Homo sapiens: one gene and its partner. The protein of the gene in region 1 purifies or fractionates together with the protein of each later gene. This does not show direct contact. Each region holds a gene or a part of one and is shown on either strand. Other genes may lie near its edges. The genes, in order: CSDE1 and PAIP1.

Region 1 (10,613 bases):
CTCCTTTCGCACCTAATCCAGTGCTGCCATATACAACCAAAGGAAAAAGGTAGTTAATCCTTAATAAGCAAAAGGACGCCACAATTCAAGTGTAAACAGTTATGCCACAATTCAAGTGTAAACAGTTATACCACCTTTAATTATATAGTTTTAATTATCCAATCAAGAAATAATCTCTTCTTTAAAAAATACAGACTGTGTATATTGGTTTTATCTTAATGCTTTAGGTGTATTAATGAACCCAAAGAACTCAACATGGAGAAAACAAGTTATCTTGAAACACTTGAACTGGATTAACCCATTCCAGGTTGTCGTATCACATTAAGAACTGTCAAGTCCAAGATTCAGTAACACAAAAAAAGAGATTTCTGGAACTGAAACTCTGGAGTACTGCAGGGCCATTCTTAGGCACTAATGAGGTCTATTAGGAGCTATTAAAGCTCAAACGAACCCACCAACAGTCATGAATAATTTACTGGCCGAATTAACATCTTCACAGCTTCTATAGTTAACTAAATGTTTTTCAATTAAATTAACACTTACTGAAGAACTTAAAGGTATTGGTCAGGCAGTTTAATATAAATAGCTATCCACTCATGCCCGGATTAACATTAATTGGTGCTACTAACCACCTCTTTTGCCTTAACCCTAGGAACACAAGTGCATCTCCTCCATCCCCCTAAAAGCTTGAAACTTAAGTTGCATGAAACACTGGGTATTGGGCTGGGGTGGTGGCTCTCGCTTGTAATCCCCAGCACTGTGGCAGGCCAAGGTGGGAGGATTGTCTGAGACCAGCCTGGGCAACATGGTGAGATGCTGTCTCTACAAAAAATTTTAGAAATAAAAAATAAATTCACTGGGTGTGGTGGCATGCACCTGTAGTCCCAGCTACTCGGGAAGCTGAGGCAGGAGGATCACTTGAATCCAGGAGTTTGAGGCTGCAGTGAGCTATGACTGTGCCACTGCACTCTTGCCTGGGCGACAGAGTAAGACGCTGACTCAAAACAATCGCCCCCACAAACCCACCATAGGGTACCAATAAAAACACTAGGGAACAATTTAAATGTGTATCTGAGAATCATACTGTGTGCTAAGTAATCAACTCCTTTTCCCTTTGCTCAGCATGGAAATAGTATTATTACTTAATCACTGCAATCTCCACCTCCCGGGTTCAAGCGATTCTCCTGCCTCAGCCTCCCCAGTAGCTGGGACTACAGGCGTGTACCACCAGGCCTGGCTGGCTAATTTTTGTATTTTTAGCACAGATGGGGTTTCACCATGTTGGTCAGGCTGGTCTCGAACTCCTGACCTCAAGTGACCCACCTGCCTCAGCCCCCCAAAGTGCTGGGATTACAGGCGTGAGCCACTGCACCTGGCCACCACCTGTTTTATTTCATGTCTTCCTCGGCTGTTTTACCTCAAAGGCCTAGCATAAGCCATGACATAGTCGGCACTAAATGAAGAGGTTAAACTAACACATTTATGTGGTAAGTAATCCATCTAAAATGTATCACACTACCTAGTTTATTATTTTGAAAGTATGTGCAGCACTCACTTCGGGAAAAGTTAATGAAAGGCTAAGCCAGTCTACAAAAGTCTGCTCACCTAACCCACTTCCTTTAGGCAGTATCTTCTTTTAGGCAGGAAAAAACAAAGACCCAAATAGGTAGCATAGGACTGAAAAGTTTCTCTATTGCCTGACATTTCATTGAGCACCACATTTTATAACTGAAGTGCTTAATAGGTCTTAATTCATTTTTACTTTAGGATCTAAGGTAAACGATAAACTCTAGATAATTAACCAACCTAAGTCATCTGTTGAGTAAAAATAAAAAATCAAACTGACACAACTATCTTTTTGTATCTGTGTAGTAACAACTGTGCTGGATTAATTATCTAAACAGCTACTGAGATATTTAAAATTATCTATCACTTAACTGCTTATATATACACCCAGAAACCTAATAGTTTTAAGCAGGACAAATGGCAGTGTGGGAAGATGCTGAAGAAACATTCTAGACACATCAGAAAACACCACAGACCAGCAGTTTCCAACAGAAATACAGTGTAATTATAATTCTAGTAACCATATTACAGTCAAAAGAAACAGAAGGAATTTTAATTAAACGTCTTATTTAACCAATTATATCCAAAATGTTATTCTCTACAGGCAATCAATGTAAAAAAATTGACACTGTTACATTCCTTGAAATCCAATGTTATTATACAATCACAGCACATTTCAATTCAAACTAGTCACACTTCAAGTGCACAACAGCCACACGTGGCTGGCGGCTACCATGTTCCACAGAGTAGGTATAAACTGAGCAGGGGTCTAAAAAAGCACTATTGTGCCAATTAGCAACAGGAAGTAAATGTAAGGGTCTTGAGCAAAGATTTTCACTAATAAAAGTAGGCAGTATCTAGCATAGAAGCTTGTTGTTAATAAATTGGAGAAAAAGAAGTGCAAATAACTGGTTATGTACCGGCTGTAGCTGCAAATCAACGGATAGCTTACATGTGCAACATAGGGGAAACTGATAATTTTCAGCCACACACTGTTTTACCTCAGCATAAAAGGACATTAAAATATTAAAAAGTTTTGTGTTGTTTTTAACTAGGTACCCACACATGCAAGTGGAAAACATTCTAATATCAAAACAAAGGACTTTTTAAAATCCTGACTGGGCAGAAGGGATTTAACAGCAAGTCACTCTCACCATAGTAGTTTCACCACTTACAACAGTCTAGCTATTAAAGCTTACAAAATAGATCTCAAAGTGCTTCCTCTTCTGTTTTCTGCAAGGACAAAGCTAAGAAGAAGGCACATCAATTCTTTGTGTTTACTTAACAAGATCAAGATTTTTATCTCATTTTGCAATACAGTCCTGAAATTCAACTCCTCAAAAATCTGTCCAAAAGAACATCGTTCCAAAATTTCCATGTTTTAACTACCTTGTCGAAAGTATGGCTCTCACAACAGTTTCAATAGACTTAGTGCCACTGAACTGTACAATGAAAAACACTGGAACACTAAATTTCATGTTATGAATGCTCCAGCATAATTTGATATTTTAGCATTTTGTTTGTTTAAAACAAAAATCGATGGCCCTACACGATGTGTCTTCAGGTGGGGAGAAGGGAAAATAAGGGTAGAGGGTAAAGCCAGACTGCACGTCAGCTTTCACGCTTTCAATTTTGATTTGCTAGGACTTTACCAGATTTTCACCCACACTCGCTAAAGGTCACACTTAAGTCAGTACTTACAAAAAAAGAAAACCTATCTTCTGTGCCTCAAATACTTTAGTTTTCAACTCAGCTGCTATAAATAATCATCTCGATGGTAAACATCCAGAACAGCTGCAAAACCAAACTATTACCTTCTCTTTTATTTTAGTCCCAGGGCTAAAACGAAACAAAAAGAAGGCCAAATATTTATCTAAGTTTTATGACTCAGGTATATCCCTACTGAAGTATATAAAGCCCCTCCTTACCCACACCAAGGATATCCATTATTGGTTAGTACCAAAAGAAAACCAAGGTATGTATTATAGTGCTCCTCAATGCAATATCAAGAATGTTTGCCTTTAGTTACTCAAAATGAAAATTACTCAGCATTTTAGTATAGAGTAGCTTATATCTGTGGGCTATAATTTGAAACCTACATTCTAAAAAAGTAGGTTAGTAGCAGTGGCTGAGAACTGCCAGTTCATACCAGCCTGATGAAAATTTAAGCCTCTCAAAAAGATTTAACTACCACAGTGCCTTTGAGCATTCTCCCTCTCCGCCCTGTCTCCCAACTGTTTAAAGAGCGCCATATTCTTTTACTCATTTAAGGTGCAAAACACGAAAATTAACTTGCCCAACAACGTTCAGATATTCTTTGCAGATTCAAGCCTGTTTCAGGGAGCGTTCTCTGCTTCACCTGTGAGTTAAGCAAGACGGCCGCCATCTGGGTGTTTCTAAGGGAAAACCTTAAAGCAAAAGAACCTTGGCACTAAGATTTCGTATTGATAAAATAGCATGGCAAAAATTTGAAGCTGTCTCCGACGGGGGAACTCTAAAACATTCTACATAGAATGACGAAGCCAGGCCGTTCATTGCACAATGTGGGTGGGCCAGGCGCTGGCACCATGAGAACTACAGGAGGTGGAAGGGAGGACACTACTGAGCTTTCAGGGCGCACGCCCATTCCCCAAGATAGAGGGGTGGGAGCCACGTGCCTAAAAGATTAGGGACTGGTTCCCTTTCTCAAGACGCCGAAGGGGAGACAATGAGGGGAAGGTTGGGTGCTGAGACCCTGCTCTAGGTGACTGGAGTAACGATGTCAATTCCGCCACACTACTGTGCCAGATGTGGCTGGGGAAAGGTGTCTTTAAACACTTCCCCTAAGATATCTAGATGGAGCAGGGTCTCAGTCTATACACAAAGAAGGCGCCACTGCCGCACTGCGCTCTGGTACTGGTAGTCAGATTCCCAAGCAGGTAACGGCCAGGAAACTACAGGGTCCAGAGTCAAAGTAGGCCCCTCTTCTCGGTCTCAGGCTCTTCCAACCTCACACAAAGGACCGCGCCACCACCCCCTCGCCCCGCCCGCCGGGACATGTAGTTCCCGTTTCCCCAGACAAGCCGCAGATGGGGAAGCAGCCAGACTACAGATCCCAGCAGCCTCCGCGCCCGAGCCCCGCACCCTCTGCCTCCATCTTGGCTGCTGTCGGAGCCTCCATTTTCGCTCCCTCCCCCCACTTTAGTCACCACCACCACTACCACCACGCGCAGCCGGCTGGCCTCAACTCCTCGTTTCAGCTCTGCGACCTGACATGAGGCCCAGGCAGTTGAACGGGAGACGTATGAAAAAGCCCAGGGCAGGGAATCGGGGTGCATTCTTCCCCACCTAGAGCTCTACGAGTGCCCACCTTGACTCAGAAGGCTTCTCGTTAGCCTTGGTCTTATTCTCAGCCCTTCCCCTGGGTTTCTGCTACCCCCAGTTGGACCCTGAGGTCGTACTCACCCCAACAGCTCAGCGCCCCCTCTCCAGCGCCGCCATAAGCAGCACGGCCCGGTACGTAGGAATAAATCTCGCTTCTCTCGCGAGAGTTGCGGGCTCCGGGCGCGTGCACGAGAAGGGGCGGAGTGAAGCGTACTCTCAACACGCTTGCGCAGCAGGGCTAAGTGACGCCAAGCAGTTTGCTGCACTTAACCACAACCAACATGGTGGCTGCATTACATTACATTCCTTCTTGGGTGTGCTGCGGGAAGCAATCTCGGTGTTTACTGACTCCTCCTGGACACTAGGGGTGGCGGGTGGCTTTAGGCGTCTCTAGTCTTCGAGCGTTTGAATACGTTTTAGCCCACAATAATGGGGTAAACCTTGAAGGCCAACAATTCTGATGGCATATTCAGGAGTCATAAAAAATGATTTATCTTTTCCCAGCAAAAATCCGGAAGGACCTCACACTCGTTTCTTCTTATAGTGCAAGCATTCTTTCTTACGTCTACTGTTTTAGAGGAATTTCATTAGTATAGAGTCAGCTTTGTAGCAAGGTAATTTAGAAATCTAAATGAGACCTTTGTTTTCCACGAAAAACATTGCAACAGATGCACAAGAGTGAGCAAGGCTGCATAATCACTAAACAAAATGAAACAAATTCAGTCAACTGACCTTTCAAGTTACGAAAGATATTCCTGTTGTGTCAGGTAATCAAAGAGGGTGGATCAGTAATTAAAAGGTTGAAATAAGAGCAAAGAGATGATTCATCCAATGGGGGAAGAAGGAAGGAGAAAAATGGGTAATTATGACCACAGGAAGTTCAATGGATTATCCCCTGCCAGACAGTAGAGCATGCTCCTCTGGTGAGAGGAATGCTTTTCCCAGATTCAATGCTTCTGTTTTCACAGATTCACTGGCTCTCTCACTTGACAGTATTGGATAAATAATGAGCAGCCAGTCTTCTGAGAACTCTCCTACCCACTTTTTGCTTACAACACATTTATTTGACATGTTGTATGTGTAACCACTGGGAAGTATACAGTTGTAAAGAAAATCGGATATAGACTTGTCCTCAAGGAACTTTTAGTCTAGCATCATTGATGATCACAAAAACAAATCTAAACATACACATTGGAATAAGTGCAATGAAGGAAAGACAACCTTCAATTCAACCTCTTGAATTCTAAGAGGAGGCCGTGTCCCATTTCTGTTCAAAAATTTCCTCACCACCTTTGTTGCTGGTGTCCAGTCCCATGTATAACACCTCAAAACTGCCTTTTTGCTCTCTTTGATGCCTTCCCACGCTTTCCTAAGCACAAATATTTGCTTCATTTTCAATGCTTTCATAGCTCACTCTATTGTAATTATTAGTTTTTACTAGGTAGTAATACTCTAGCACAGAGCTTATGAAATTCATCTTTGCATCCCTGGTTGTTGACAGTGCCCGCTCTCAACAACTCTCAAAAGCTTGTTGAATAAATAGCACTGGACAACAGTATGATAAGTTGTTAGAAATTGGAATATATTTCTGGGAAACTACAGAATGTAAATTTTTTTTTTTTTCAGATGGAGTTCACTCGTGTTGCCTAGGCTGGAGTGCAATGGCATGATCTCAGCTCACTGCAACCTCCGCCTCCCGGGTTCAAGCAATTCTCCTGCCTCAGCCTCCTGAGTAGGTGGGATTACAGGCGTGCACCACCACACCCGGCTAATTTTTGTATTTTTGGTAGAGACAGGGTTTCACCATGTTGGCCAGGCTGGTCTCGAACTCCAGATGTCGTGATCCACCCGCCTCAGCCTCCCAAAGTGCTGGGATTACAGGCATGAGCCACCGCACCCGACCTAATTTTGTATTTTTAGTAGAGACAGAGTTTCTCCATGTTGGTCAGGCTGGTCTCCAACTCCTTACCTCAGGTGATCCGCCCACCTCGGCCTACCAAAGTGCTGGGATTGCAGGCATGAGCCACCACGCCTGGCCCAGAATGTAAATATTTCAAACCAGCTGTTTTGTTTAATTCACCCAGTTCTTAAATCGAGATCTCCCCTTCCTGCAATACAGCTGGTCTGTGTATTCTAATCTAATGTTATAGAGAAACTGTACCAGGCTCTTGCGCTAGATATGAGGTCATGTGAAACTAATTAGGTAATTAGGTAATTCTACTTTTAGTATACATTCTCAAATATCACAGCAATAGGAAATGTAAAAAAAAAAAAGTCTTACTAAATTATATCAATACAATTACTATTAATAAGGAAGGATAAAGCCTTGATTTCTACCATTACACATAGCTTCTGAAAACCTTCTTTAATTATATAATCATTTCATCATCATCATTCTGAATATATCCCAATTGTCTTTAAATTCCTTTAAATTCCTCCTTGTTCCAAAATTAATATCAATTTACATTTAACACAAAATGCAGTCTGTATAAACCGAGAAATATACATTTTAGCTTCTAATGCATTAAAGAAAGTAACAGGTGGAACAATTTGATATAAATCACAAGTTAAAATGATTTACTGTTTCTACAAGTAAAACCCACAAACAGAAGTAGGTTTCATTATTAGATCACTACATAATGATTTTTTTCAGATGAATTTTGAAGTCAAATCAAAAACTGAAAAAATGTGGTTATCTTTTTATGTTTTTTTTTAAATTAAATCAGAAACTTGTTAAATCACTTTGGAAAACCATCTCCTATGCAACAGGGTGACATGGATTTTGGGAAGATAGTCTGTTAAGGAACCATCAGAAAAAAATTTGAGAAATTATTTTTAGTTATTCATCATATTTAGTTTTCTACTCTGAAAAACTTAGACAATGAAATTGATAATGATTGTGTGCTTTTTTTCCCTCTACAATCATCAATAAGTACATTATCTCTGAAGTCTACTTTAGAATCAAAAGTAAGCATTTCTTACAGTTTGTAAGGTTTTCTTGAGCAGCGGTGGGTGAGATTTTTGTCATTTCTCTGTCGAATGAGAAAAATTAGGTCAATATAGAGCTTTTTTAAAAAAATTAAATAAGGCTAAATTTATTCCAGATTTTAAGAGTTGTTTTTATTCTGACATGTCCTCCCTGTTTAGGGAAACTAAAGAGGATCTTCTTTTATAAAATTATGATAGGCTGGGCACGGTGGCTCACAACTGTAATCCCAGACTTTAGAAGCCAAGGTGGGAGGATCGCTTGAGCTCAGGAGTTCCGGACCAGACTGGGCAATGTAGCGAAACCCCGTCTTTACAAAAAAATTGAAAATTAGCCAGGCATGGTGATGCATGTGTGGTCCCAGCTACTCAGCAGGCTGAGATGGGAAGACTGCTTAAGCCTGGGAGGTCATGGCTGCAGTGAGCCATAATCGTGCTATTGCACTTCAGCCTGGGCAACAGAATGAGACAAGGTCTTAAAAAATATTTCATTAAATAAGATAAAATTATGATAATAGTGCATGGTAAAGAGGTCCACATCCAAGGTTTCAGAACAGAAATAATACTTCTAGAGCAAAAACATTCATAAAGAAGAATTATTTCCATAAGAATTAATGTAAATAATTAAGATTTGGTCCTATAGGCCTACAACCCAAAACTTTTTATTCTTTAACCAGCCTCTAAACAGTTAAAGGGCATTATATAAATAAGAATAACATAATACCACTAATGTAATAAAATATTAGAATTTAAATAAGAATGCAAAAGCTTTATATAATGCTTCCCTTTAAAATGTTAAAATTGCACTTAATAGGATAATTATGTGGACATGCTAAAATGCTGCACCAAAAGTAACCATCTAACATTGTAGCTCTGGGAGTCAGTTAATAGAGGGAAGGGTAGAGCAACAGAATATTTATAATTTAACTTAAACTGAATCCTGATGAAATCCAATTGTATTTAACATAAATCCAAACTCTTTTACTGTGCTCTTCAAGGCCCTGAATGATATAGTCCCCACCAAATTCTCTAACCCCTGGTTAACTGGTTCTTCCTATATTGTAAGTTTGTTCCTACTTCAAGGCCCATGAATTTACTGTTGTCTCTGCCTGGAATGTTCTAGCCCAAATCTTTGGGCACTTTCTCATCATTCAGATTTCAGGTCAAATGTTAACCACTTTACAAAGGCCTTTTCTAAAGTAAAAGTACCCACTAAACTATCAGTTTCCATTTGTTTATTGCTCATCCCTCTGAACTACAGCATAAGCTTCAATTCTCTAGTTCATCATTGTATCCCCAAAACCTGGCACAGTGACTTACGTATACAGTAAATACTTAAACAATATTCATTGAATGAGTAAATTTCACTTATTTTATTGAATCCAAGGCAGTAGTGATTGTATGGTAGGTCATCATTTATGGATTACTAATAAGAAAATATGTAGCCATTGCTATAAAGACACATGCACACATATGTTTATTGCAGCACTATTCACAATAGCAAAGACTTGGAACCAGTCCAGATGTCCATCAATGATAGACTGGATTAAGAAAATGTGGCACATATACACCATGGAATACTATGCAGCCATAAAAAAAGATGAGTTAATGTCCTTTGTAGGGACATGGATGAAGCTGGAAACCATCATTCTCAGCAAACTATCGCAAGGACAAAAAACCAAACACCGCATGTTCTCACTCATAGGTGGGAATTGAACAATGAGAACAGTTGGACACAGAAAGGGGAACATGACACACCAGGGCCTGTCGTGGGATGGGGGAGGGGGGGAAGGATAGCATTAGGAGATATACCTAGTGTAAATGACGAATTAATGGGTGCAGGACACCAACATGGGACATGTATACATATGTGACAAACCTGCGCGTTGTGCACATGTACCCTAGAACTTAAAGTATAATTTAAAAATAAATAAATAAATAAAATAACCCTAAAGCTCTAGAAGAAAATATGTAGCCATTTTCATTATTGATATGGTTTGGTTGTGTCCTCTCCTGAATCTCATCTTGAATTGTAGTTCGAATAATCCCCACATGTCATGGGAGGGATCCAATGGGAGGTAATTGAATCATGTGGGCAGTTACCCTCATGCTCCTTTTCTTGTGATAGTGAGTTCCCATAAGATCTGATGGTTTTATAAGGGGCTTTCCCCCCTTTGCTCAGCACTCATTCTCCTTCCTGCCACCAAGTGAAGAAGGATATGTTTGCTTCCCCTTCCACCATGATCATAAGTTCCCTGAGGCCTTCCCAGCCAAGCTGAACTGTGAGTCAGTTTAACTTCTTTCCTTTATAAATTACCCAGTCTTGGGTGTGTCCTTATAGCAGTATGAGAATGAATTAACACAACAAATTGGTACCAGGAGTTAGTGGGTCACTGCTATAAGGATACCCGAAAATGTGAAAGCGACTTTGGAACTGGTAACAGGTAGAGTCTGGAACAGTTTTGAGGGCTCAGAAGAAGAAAATGTGGGAAGGTTTGGAAATTCCTAGAGAATTGGGGACTCAGAAGACAGGAAGATGTGGGAAAGTTTGGAACTAAAATGCCGATAATAATATGGACAATGAAGTCCAGGCTGAAGTGGTCTCAGATGGAGATGAGGAACTTGTTGGGAACTGGAATAAAGGTGATTCTTGCTATGCTTTAGCAAAGAGATTGGCAGCATATTGCCCCTATCCTAGA
Region 2 (10,609 bases), on another chromosome or scaffold:
ATAGATCAGCACCTCCTGTGCTCAATTTACCAAAACAGATTGCAGCCTGGCACCTGGAAACCTGTGTGGCCTGCAGGTGTCTTCTCTAGCCCTGAATGGGTTTGTTTTTTCTTTAAGTTGTTTTATTTAATTAACCAATACCTAAATTAGATATTAGAAACTTGAATGTTCTGGTTTGTCATAAAATCTGGCCTTAGTGGACTGGCATTTTGATACAGCAAAAATTGGTTGGAGCTGAGTAGAGGCATTCTCTTTAGATGGAGTCTGTGAGCTCTAATTTGCTTTCTGGCTTATTTCATTCATTTGTAATCTACCTGAATTCTACAGGCATTCAGGCTTACTACCCCTGTTCTGGTATATTCTCTAGCCTTACTGGTTTACCCTAATCTTTACCCATAGTTAAGGCTAAGAGAGTTTTTCTCAATCCAATTAGTCATAGAACAGCAGGATCCTTTTTTCCCCCGACTCTTAGGATAAGCTCTTGTTGCAAAGGAAACATTTCCTTTTAGTAGCCATAATCCAAAGTTAGCTACATTCACTCATTCAACAAATAGTCAAGTACTTATCATGAGTCAAGCACCGGTGATACAGCAACAAACAAAATGGACAGAAATTCCTGTCTTCATGGAGTCTCTATTCTAGTAGTCTCCTGGCTCAGTTTGCAGACATTTATTGAATCTGCTTTTGTTCTACACATGAAAATCTATTTCCTGGTATCCTTTTTCTAACAGCCTTTATGGTAGTCTTCTGCTGTGCTTTCTTAACTCTTTCAAGGCACCAAGCCCTTTTATCTTCAGTTCTTCCTCTAATCCTGCTGCTAGAATTTCCTACTTTCCATGTCTTCTTACCAGTGAGTTGCTATATCCATTTATCCCTGGCCATTATTTCTTCTCAGACAAACCATTATGCCTTGAATATTTGTCACAGTTCACTTACCAGAGCCAAAAATTTAACATAGGAATTCATAAAGCATTGATGAAGAGACAGAAGTCCCCTTCCTCCCCTGCAAAAAAACGAGCTTTTTTTCTAAGAGAATCCCTCTTCAAGTTACTTCCCAGTTTTTGTTCTGCCTTGCAGTAGTATCATTCTCCAATAGGTAAAATTATTCACTGTCTCTCACTGTTCAGACCTCTGCAGTCTGATCTCCCTAATTGTATTGATACTATTTTTGTGACTGATGTTCTTCCGATTTTTAAATTTATCTTCCTAAATCTCATTTTAAAACTTTGAGCACTGTAGGATCTATTCAGTTTATAAATCCCCATGTGCCAGGTCCTGTGCTAGGTGCAAAGGTACCTTTTTAGTCTATCAGAAGCTCCCTCCCATTGTTTTAAGAACTAAGTATTTGAGGTACTAGTTTTGTTCTTTTTTCTCTCTGAGTATAATCTCCTTCACTCCCGAGACTCTGCAATGATAATTCTCTTCCAGATTTCAACCTATGAATTTATTCTGTAGCATTTGTTGTTATGAGCATCTCTTCTCCCCTACCTCTTTGGCTTCTGTGGCAGTACTTTATCCTCCCAACTTGCAGATCATTCCTTTTCCCCTCAGATGACAGTTGGTGACGTTCTTTCTTCCATTTTATTACCTCCTTTGCTAATCCCGCCTATTCCATAGAATCTATCACTTATTTATGTGCTAATAACCCTGACATCTAATTATTCCTTTGAACTCTAGTGAACTCTAGGCATACATTTTCATTTATTTGACCACTTCTTGAGGACCTCACATTCAAATGCAAGTATAAAATCTATACACAGTGTAAGAATTATTTATCTCATGCGAATCTCTTCTAACTAGCTGCTTACACTAAGAACTTGGTGGCATATTGACTCACCTCTCCTGCACACCCTTGCCTTAATTCAATCCAGCTAGCTAAAGTAGTCGTGACTATATTCACTCTCTGTAGTGTCTGATCAGTTTTCTTTTATTCCCACGGTTCTGTAATAGGTTCTCATCTCTTGACAATGTATATAGAGTACCTACCATGAAAAAGTACATTTTCTATTTCTCCCAATCTCCCATAGAATTCTAAGAAAAATAAAACTTGAAAATATCTCTGTTTGGAAGCCATTTGACTCCACATTGAAGACTGAAGAAATTTGTGGCTTTAAAAAATCTGGTGCTAGAGAAGTAATGCAGGCTTTGATTCAAACACGTTGGAGTGCCTGTCTGTTCCAAATACTCTATGCCTCCTTTTTTTGCTTAAAATGGCAGGCTCTGGATCCTCTGTTCTGCTATATTCAGAGCAGTTCTACTTTCTTCTTTTACTGATCAGATTTTACATTTTCTTAAAAGAGAGTTCTGTTGACTTTAAAAAAAAAAAAAAAAAGATTGCAAATCAGCGCTCTAAGCAGCATTTTTGCCACGAAGAATGACATTTGATGGAAACAGGAAATTAGTACTTTCAGCTGGGACCCGTACCTTTGCCTTTCTGCTGTTCCTTGTCATTAATAGTGGTAGGATACTACAAGTCTGTAAAACTAGTAACTGTATATCAAAAACTTAAGACTAGTTTTTAGTTATAAAATTCACGCATGTATGTAGTTAACATTAAGTATATGAATGTGTACAATTATGCCTAACTGCTTTCACAACTTTATAATGTCAATATTTATAATGGGAACATTTTCTCACTCTAGAGGTAAGTACTGTTGTCTCTTGTTTTCTTAAATGGCTATAATATTCCATTATACAGATATATGATAATGTATTTAACCAATTCCTTGTTAATGGATTGTTACGTGGATTTTTTGGCAATGAACATCTTTGTACATAAAATTGGGTTTTAAGCTTTTGTCCTTTATTTTGAGTTTCACAGAGAGGTTAAAAATATAGGCTTTGTTCTGCGCTCAGTTCTTCTAATCAGTTTTGTGACCATGCACAGTCACTTAAGTTGGTGCATGGTCCTTCCTTGTTCAAACCCTCTTTCCCCCATCCTGTTTTTCCTACTTCCTTAAGAGCCAGTTTCCTTAATTTGGCCCCCAAAGCCCTCTAAGATCTCCTTATCTGCCTCATTGACCTCATTAGTTACCACCCATCCTCAGTTTCTGTATTCTAGTTATTGTCTTTTTCAAAGTTATTAGGCCTCCTTGGGGCCTGTGTGCTTCTTGTGCCCATAGAAAGAGAATATCTTTCCTTAGATATTTGTATGGCTGGATCTTTTTTTCTTTCTTAGTTTATATATTAACTCTAAGAATCTCTACTTGGCTTTTTGCTTTTTTTTTTTTTTTTTTTTTTGTAGTATATTTCAACTTCTGAATGTGTCTTCCATCATGGGGTATGAGCTCCATGAGAGGAGAGCCTTGTCTGCTTTATTCATGGCAGATATTCATGTCATGGCAGTATCCCATCCCCTAAGACAGTCTTTGGCACTTAGTAGGTACTCAGCAGCCACACCATTTTGAATGAATAACCAAAGTGACTTAACTACTCTGTGCCTGTTTCTTCTATGCAGGGAGGATAGTGATGCTTACCTCAAAATGTTCTAGGTTAAACAAGATGCAGGCAAAGCCCTTATGGTGTCTATCACATATCATATATGCAGCTGGTGGCTATTAGCTTATTAACTGGAGTACCATCCTAGGTGCCAAGAAATACAGCTTTTTATCATTCATTTTGGATGCTTTTTATACTTTAGTCCCTTTATGTATGAATACATGGCTGTTGCATTTGGAATATGACTCAGTATTCTCCTAGAAATTTAAAATGTAATTCATTTGTTGAACATTCTGTGCTTTACTATGTGCTCTTCACCAATCTAGGTGAATTTGATTAATTCACTTAATCCTCAGAGTCACAGTGATAATATTTATGATTAGTAAATAAATGCATCAACATTAATACCTCCTATTATAGTAGAATGTTTAACTTGAATTCAAATGCGTGACAAAAATCTAATGTATTAGAGTTTATCCTTCTATTCAATGAACACTATATGTGAATGAAAAAGGCACATGAATCTGCTATTTCTGCAGCTGGTTTTACTTCCTGACTGCCTCTCATAGTACATGCAACTTTTGCTAAGTATCACTTCAGTCTCTGAAGATACATAGGCCGGGCATGGTGGCTCTCGCCTGTAATCCCAGCGCTTTGGGAGGCCGAGTTGGGTGGATCATTTGAGGTCAGGAGTTTGAGACCATCCTGATCAACATGGTGAAACCCCATCTCCTCTAAAAATACAAAAAAAATTAGCTGGGCCTGGTGGTACATGCCTGTAGTCCCAGCTACTCTGGGAGGCTGAGGCAGGAGAATTGCTTGAACCTGGGAGGCAGAGGTTGCAGTGAGCCAAGATCTTGCCACTGTACTCCAGCCTGGGTGACAGAGCGAGACTCCATCTCAAAAATAAAAATAAAAAATAAAGATAAAATAAAAAGTGTAAAACATGACCTCCAAATGATGGTTATTTGAAGTGGTAGCACTATAGTGGTCCATTTTCATGCTGCTGACAAAGACATACCCGAGACTGGGAAGAAAAAGAGATTTAATTGGACTTACAGTTCCACAAGGCTGGGAAAGCCTCAGAATCATGGCGGGAGGTGAAAGGCACATCTTACGTGGCCGCAGCAAGAGAAAAATGAGGAAGAAGCAAAAGCGGAAACCCCTGATAAACCCATCAGATCTCGTGAGACGTATTCACTATGACAAGAATAGCACCGGAAAGACTGGCCCCATTGATTCAGTTACCTCCCTCCTGGGTCCCTCCCACAACACATGGGAATTCTGGGAGATACAATTCAAGTTGAGATTTAGGTGGGGACACAGCCAAACCATATCAAGCACCAACAGTAAAGGGACAAGTGGACAATTGGCAATGTTGGTCTTTCTCCTAAGACTGTGTCCTGGGCCAGGCGCAGTGGCCTGTAATCCCAGCACTTTGGGAGGCCAAGGTGGGGGAATCACCTGAAGTCAGAGTTTGAGACCAGCCTGGCCAACATGGTGAAACCCTGTCTCTACTAAAAATACAAAAATTAGCCAGGCATGGTGGTGCATGCCTGTAATCCCAGCTACTTGAGAGGCTGAGGTACAGGAATAGCTTGAACCCGGGAGGCGGAGGTTGCAGTGAGCCAAGATTGCACCACTGCACTCCAGCCTGGGCGACAGAACAAGACTGTCTCAAAGAAAAAAAAAGACTGTCTTTCTCCAACATGGAGCATTTCTAAGGGTGTTTTGACCATGTATGACTTTTTTTTTCTTCTATGCACTCACTGACTTTAGAACTTAACCCCTTCACAAAATGCTTCTGTTTTGTAGTCATAACTTTTTTATGTGGCTTTTCATTTACTCTGTTTGGAGAAGGTTAAATTTCATACAAGCAGTGTAGTTATTATTAGATTTTAACTGTTTGGTAAACTTTAAAGCGCTTCGGGTGGTATTCCAGGCATTGAGATGTGAAAGTTGTTGCTCAAGTCTATTATCTTTTGTAAAACTCGCCCACTCAGCCTTCTGCCATTAATGAAAAGGTTGGAAACTGCCAAAGGTGACAGTGGTGGAAACAACATTAGCTGGAAACTACTGCTGCTATCAAGGTTGTGTTAGCAACCTGGATGTAGCAGCCAAAAGGTCTCCTTCCATTTATACCGTGATGAAATTTTAGTTACTCGAGCAGCTTTATGCATTTCTTTGCCCTTGGGGATTAACAGATGATAAACCTTATTAGGTTTTTGTTTTTGTTTTTTTTTTCCCCAATAAAAAAGTTGTCAACATTTGCAGAAATACAGAGAATGGTATAATGAATCCTCATGGCCTCAACAGTAAGCTACATGTGGCCGTTCTTGTTTTTATATCCCTAGTCCATACTTCCCCTCCCACTTTGAAGCAAATCCTAGATCTTATTTCATTCGTAAGTGGATCAGATTCTTAATTTTTATATTGGCATTGTAGTGAAATATTGGTTTAAACTTTATTCCTCAGCCATCTTAGAAGTTGACCCAGAATGAGAAGACAATTCCCTGTTTAGCTGAACAGAACCTTTCTGCTGTTAATTATAACACTTCAGCTTTTAGGCAAGGAAGAAAAATAGCTCAATTGACAATTTTATTGATGAACATAAATTTTTATCATGTGAGGGATCTTTAAAAAAGCATTTGTGCTAGAGACATACCACCTTGTGTGTTTTAGCCAGTTGCATAGATTAAAATTGTTTTTTCATTTTTGATCCGTAGGAATCCTATGAGGATGGTTGTGAGGATTATCCTACTCTATCAGAATATGTTCAGGATTTTTTGAATCATCTTACAGAGCAGCCTGGCAGTTTTGAAACTGAAATTGAACAGTTTGCAGAGACCCTGAATGGTTGTGTTACAACAGATGATGCTTTGCAAGAACTTGTGGAACTCATCTATCAACAGGTATGTTGGCTTATAGCATGCAGTGACCTTCAGATAGCTTCCTTGAAGCCCAAGGATAGTGGCTACTCCTTGAGGGAGACCAGATTCATGATCACCTGCCTCCACACTTACTCTTTATAGTTTCCGGGAGTTCTAAGTCTGTCTTGTATAAAACTCCTATAGTTAGGGATCCAAGGGTAGAGCCAGACAGGATTGCAAGTTCACATGTGTAGTCAAGATTCAATATAGGTAATATTCACCTGTTTAGCCAAAGCTCTATACAAGCAGTATAGTATAGAAGGTGATATGGGCACTGAAAACGAAGGCTACATAAGTGTCACCCCCACCAAAACCCTGCCCCTTGTTTTGCAGGCTCTGAAATTAGCAGTACCAGAAAAGACTGCAATTCTTTTCCCCTATGTGTTGAATTGAATAGTAGTATTAGAGTAGGGGAGGAAAAAAATTGAGAGAATTTGCTTGCCTCATAAGTAGGTCTTTAAAAAAAAGAAAGCCAAACCATAAAATGTCTTGTCTTAGCATTTCTACTTGCCTTTGCTTTCTTTTAAAATTTAAGGATTTCATCTTAATTCCTTGAAAGTCTAATTTAGTCAGTTGAAATTGTTTCATTATACAACATTTAGTTTTTATCCCAGCATATTGGTCATTAACATATTAACGCTTTTTTTTTTTTTTTTTTTTTTTTTTTGATATGGAGTCTTGCCCTGTCTCCCAGGCTGGAGTGCAGTGGCGCAGTCTCAGCTCCCTGCGACCTCCGTCTCCCGGGTTCAAGCGATTCTCCTGCGTCAGTCTCCCAGGTAGCTGAGATTACAGGTGTGCACCACCATGCCCAGCTAATTTTTGTATTTTTGATAGAGACAGGGTTCCACCGTGTTGACCGGGCTGGTCTCGAACTCCTGACCGCAAGTGATCTGCTTGCCTTGGTCTCCCAAAATGCTGGGATTTTACAGACATGAGCCGCTGCACCTGGCCTCATTAATGCTATTTTAAAAGTGAAAAATACAGTAGACAACACTGGCTTAACACAAAATTTCTTAGTCAGTGTGAGACTGGTCAAAAAAAATGGGCCATGATCAGAAATGTAAACTTTAGGTTCTTTAAGTCACTGTTACAAGAGCAACTCAAATTTGGAATATATGGAAGGGAGATTATAATGCAAATTAATGATTATTTTCTATCCTAATGTTTCATTTGGCTGCTTTTCCAAGTTATTCTGGATGGTTACTGGACCCCAAGATTACCTAGCCAACTGTCAGTTTTGAGGAAGTACCTGAGATGTTAGGAAGACAGAACTGCACTGTTTGTCCTCATTTCTGCTTTCTGCTGATAAATGGATTGAAAAGGAATATGAGATAAGAAAATGAAACAAATGTATTTATTTCTTGTTGCCTTTCTGGCTTCCTCCACTATTTAGTTTCAGTTATTCAGTAGGCTGCGTAATTATACTTATTCAGGGCTGGACAAAGGGTCAGTAACCTGATAAGCGTCAACTATTTCTCTGATTGTCAAATATGTAGTCAGTATGTTTAATGTTTTAATATTCTATGATCAATGATGCATAGGTTTATCAATAGCTGCTAAGTTTCATTGAGGTAATTTATGGAAATTTACTCATAGCAACTAACAAACGAGGAAGTATTACAAAAGATGACAGATTAGGCCAGGCGCAGTGGCTCATGTCTGTAATCCCAGCACTTTGGGAGGCCGAGGCGGGTGGATCACCTGAGGTCAGGAGTTCAAGACCAGCCTGACCAACATGGAGAAACCCTGTCTCTACTAAAAAAAAATACAAAATTAGCTGGGCTTGGTGGTGCATGCCTGTGATCCCAGCTACTCGGGAGGCTGAGGCAGGAGAATCGCTTGAACCCGGGAGGCGGAGGTTGCAGTGAGCCGAGATTGCGCCACTGCACTCCAGCTTGGGCAACGAGCGAAACTCTGAATCAAAAAAAAAAAAAATGACAGATTAAATACACATTCAACTCTGATATCTCCCAAACACCACTAAAATGATGCTATGGGGATTTTTAAAAGGCGGAAGCTCATAGGGACAGAGAAGAGGAAAAGAAAAGCACTAGTTTTGAAGACTAGAAAGCAGGTGGGTGAGTGGTACCTGATTTGGCAGATCTAACGTTGAATTCCAAGCCAGTGGTGGTAAAGCTGAGAATCACCATGACTTACAGTGCAAAACCTAAAAGGTTCTAAAATAAGGATGGAATGAGGCTAAAAGGATTGCTTGAGAATCTAAAAAGTTAGACCATCCAGATCTTTTTACACTGAACAGCCGGTTTGAAATTTTGTTGTAACCCTTCTTATGAAATTAACAAAGGACGTACTCTGTCAAAAAGAGGAGTTATGCCACGGATGAAGACATGGGAACCAGGAAAAGGAACTCTACAGGAGAGACTAAGTGAACTGTCCAGATGATGGTTCAAAGGAGATCTCAAAACAATAGCAGCATGCATAGTAGGTCTGAAGCAGCCAGGCTTCACTGGACTAGGTCAGAAGGCTCCAGGAAAGACTTCCGTAATAAGATGAGCACACATGCTGTAAGACATAAGAAGAAATTTACAGAGTAGTGAGTTTAGGGATAAATCAATGAGAAGAATATAAAAGTGTAGTAAAAACTGAATCTAGGGAAGACAAAGTTGTGCAAAAGTAAAAGCAGTGTAATACATGGTTCAGCTATAAATGAAAACACAGCAAATGAATAAAATCATAACCATACTGTGATAGGAGGAAATAGTAGAGTGGGGTGAAATTAAGCAGGGTGAAAGCTAAAAGCTCATCTTCCATGATGGGAAACTGTAAGTTGAGTATCCCGTATCTGAAATGCTTGAGATTTCAAGCATTTCAGATGGATTTTTTCAGATTTAGCATATCCAGTATATAATGAGACACCTCAGGGAGGGTACCTAAGTATATTACAGCTGAAGGGGGTTGACAGGGTCTTTTTTCCTTTGGGGATGCTGAATAAATTATGTGTTGTACACCTGTGTTTTGACTGACCTGTCACATGAGGTCAGGTGTGGAATTTTCCACTTTTGGCATTATGTGGACACTCATATTTTCTGTTTTTGGAGGATTTTAGATTTTTGGACAGGGATGCTCAAGTTGCAGTAAGAAATAACATCTAAACTGAAAAATTACGTAGTGCGGAGATATGGGGATTAAAACATTTTTGGCTGAAGAAGTCAAAAGTGGTTGTCTTTGGGAGTAAAACCGGGATGTAAGTAGGAAACTGTTGAATGACAAGCCTTATAGAACTTGTCTTTAAATCGTGTTATAACACTAAAAAGAAGCTAAAGGAAAACATGCAGTGCCAATAATGGGAAAAATGTAAGGGTGAACCAAGTCTTGGGTACCAGCTAAACATACATGATGTCAGGAGAAATCACTCTTTCTCCCTTAATGTGACATATACTGGCCCCATGTGAGCAAGGAAATAATTAGAAATAAAAGTTAGTAAGTAGACCCAACATATAGAGTCAGAGGGGTAGCAGGACATTTGTTAGATCTAGATTCTATGTTCAATTACATTTGTGGCCAAGTCCCTTAGCTTTTTTTTTTTTTTTTTTTTTTTTTTTAAAAAGATGGGGGCTTTGTTTTGTCACCCAGACTAGAGTGCAGTGGCGTGACCACAGCTCACTGCAGCCTTGAACTCCTACACTCAAGTGATCCTTCCACCTCAGCCTCCAGAGTAGCTGGGACTACGGTGCATGCTACCGTGCCCAGCTAATTTTAAAATTTTTTTATAGAGATGGTGGTCACACTGTGTTGACTAGGCTGGTCTTGAACTCATGGCCTCAAGCGATCCTCTGGCCTTGGCCTTCCAGAGTACTAGGAATACAGGCATGAGCCACTGTGCCCGACTTCTTAACCTTTTAATGTGTGTTTTCTTACCTAATATTAGATGGTAAACTATGTTCTCTACTATTCTTTAGAAATTGCAATTAAAGTTAAACTTGCTGAACACTGCTTCAGTTATATCAACAATCTTTGATGTGTAGTGTTTTCTTACTTTTTTTTTTTTCTGTTTTTAAGTAGCTTAGCTGTTTTCATTTCCCCTTTACCCAATCATTCTTGGAGTGTTTAAGTGTTAGTTGCTTGTGCCAGTTACCATTAATCACCTCTTTAAAGTCTAACTGAAGCTCAGGGAGGTTTACTGATGTCCAAAGTCATGAAGCAAAATGCCAGGGAATCTTGTCCTGGACTGCCAAACACTAAAAAGTCTGTGCTTTCCTGCCCCAAGAAGCCCCACTGGT

The links.
Region 2: the proteins of CSDE1 (region 1) and PAIP1 purify together in Homo sapiens (affinity purification with western blotting; 2 studies listed by BioGRID and IntAct, with this or other methods). This does not show direct contact.

Annotation. Positions count from the first base shown.
Region 1 is NC_000001.11:114,752,915-114,763,527, forward strand, and holds the start of CSDE1 (cold shock domain-containing protein E1), read right to left. Parts: upstream 5,071-10,613; 5' UTR 5,011-5,070; intron 1-5,010. UniProt on the Homo sapiens protein: RNA-binding protein involved in translationally coupled mRNA turnover.
Region 2 is NC_000005.10:43,543,469-43,554,077, reverse strand, and holds part of PAIP1 (polyadenylate-binding protein-interacting protein 1), read left to right. Parts: intron 1-6,164; coding exon 6,165-6,350; intron 6,351-10,609. UniProt on the Homo sapiens protein: Acts as a coactivator in the regulation of translation initiation of poly(A)-containing mRNAs. Its stimulatory activity on translation is mediated via its action on PABPC1. Competes with PAIP2 for binding to PABPC1.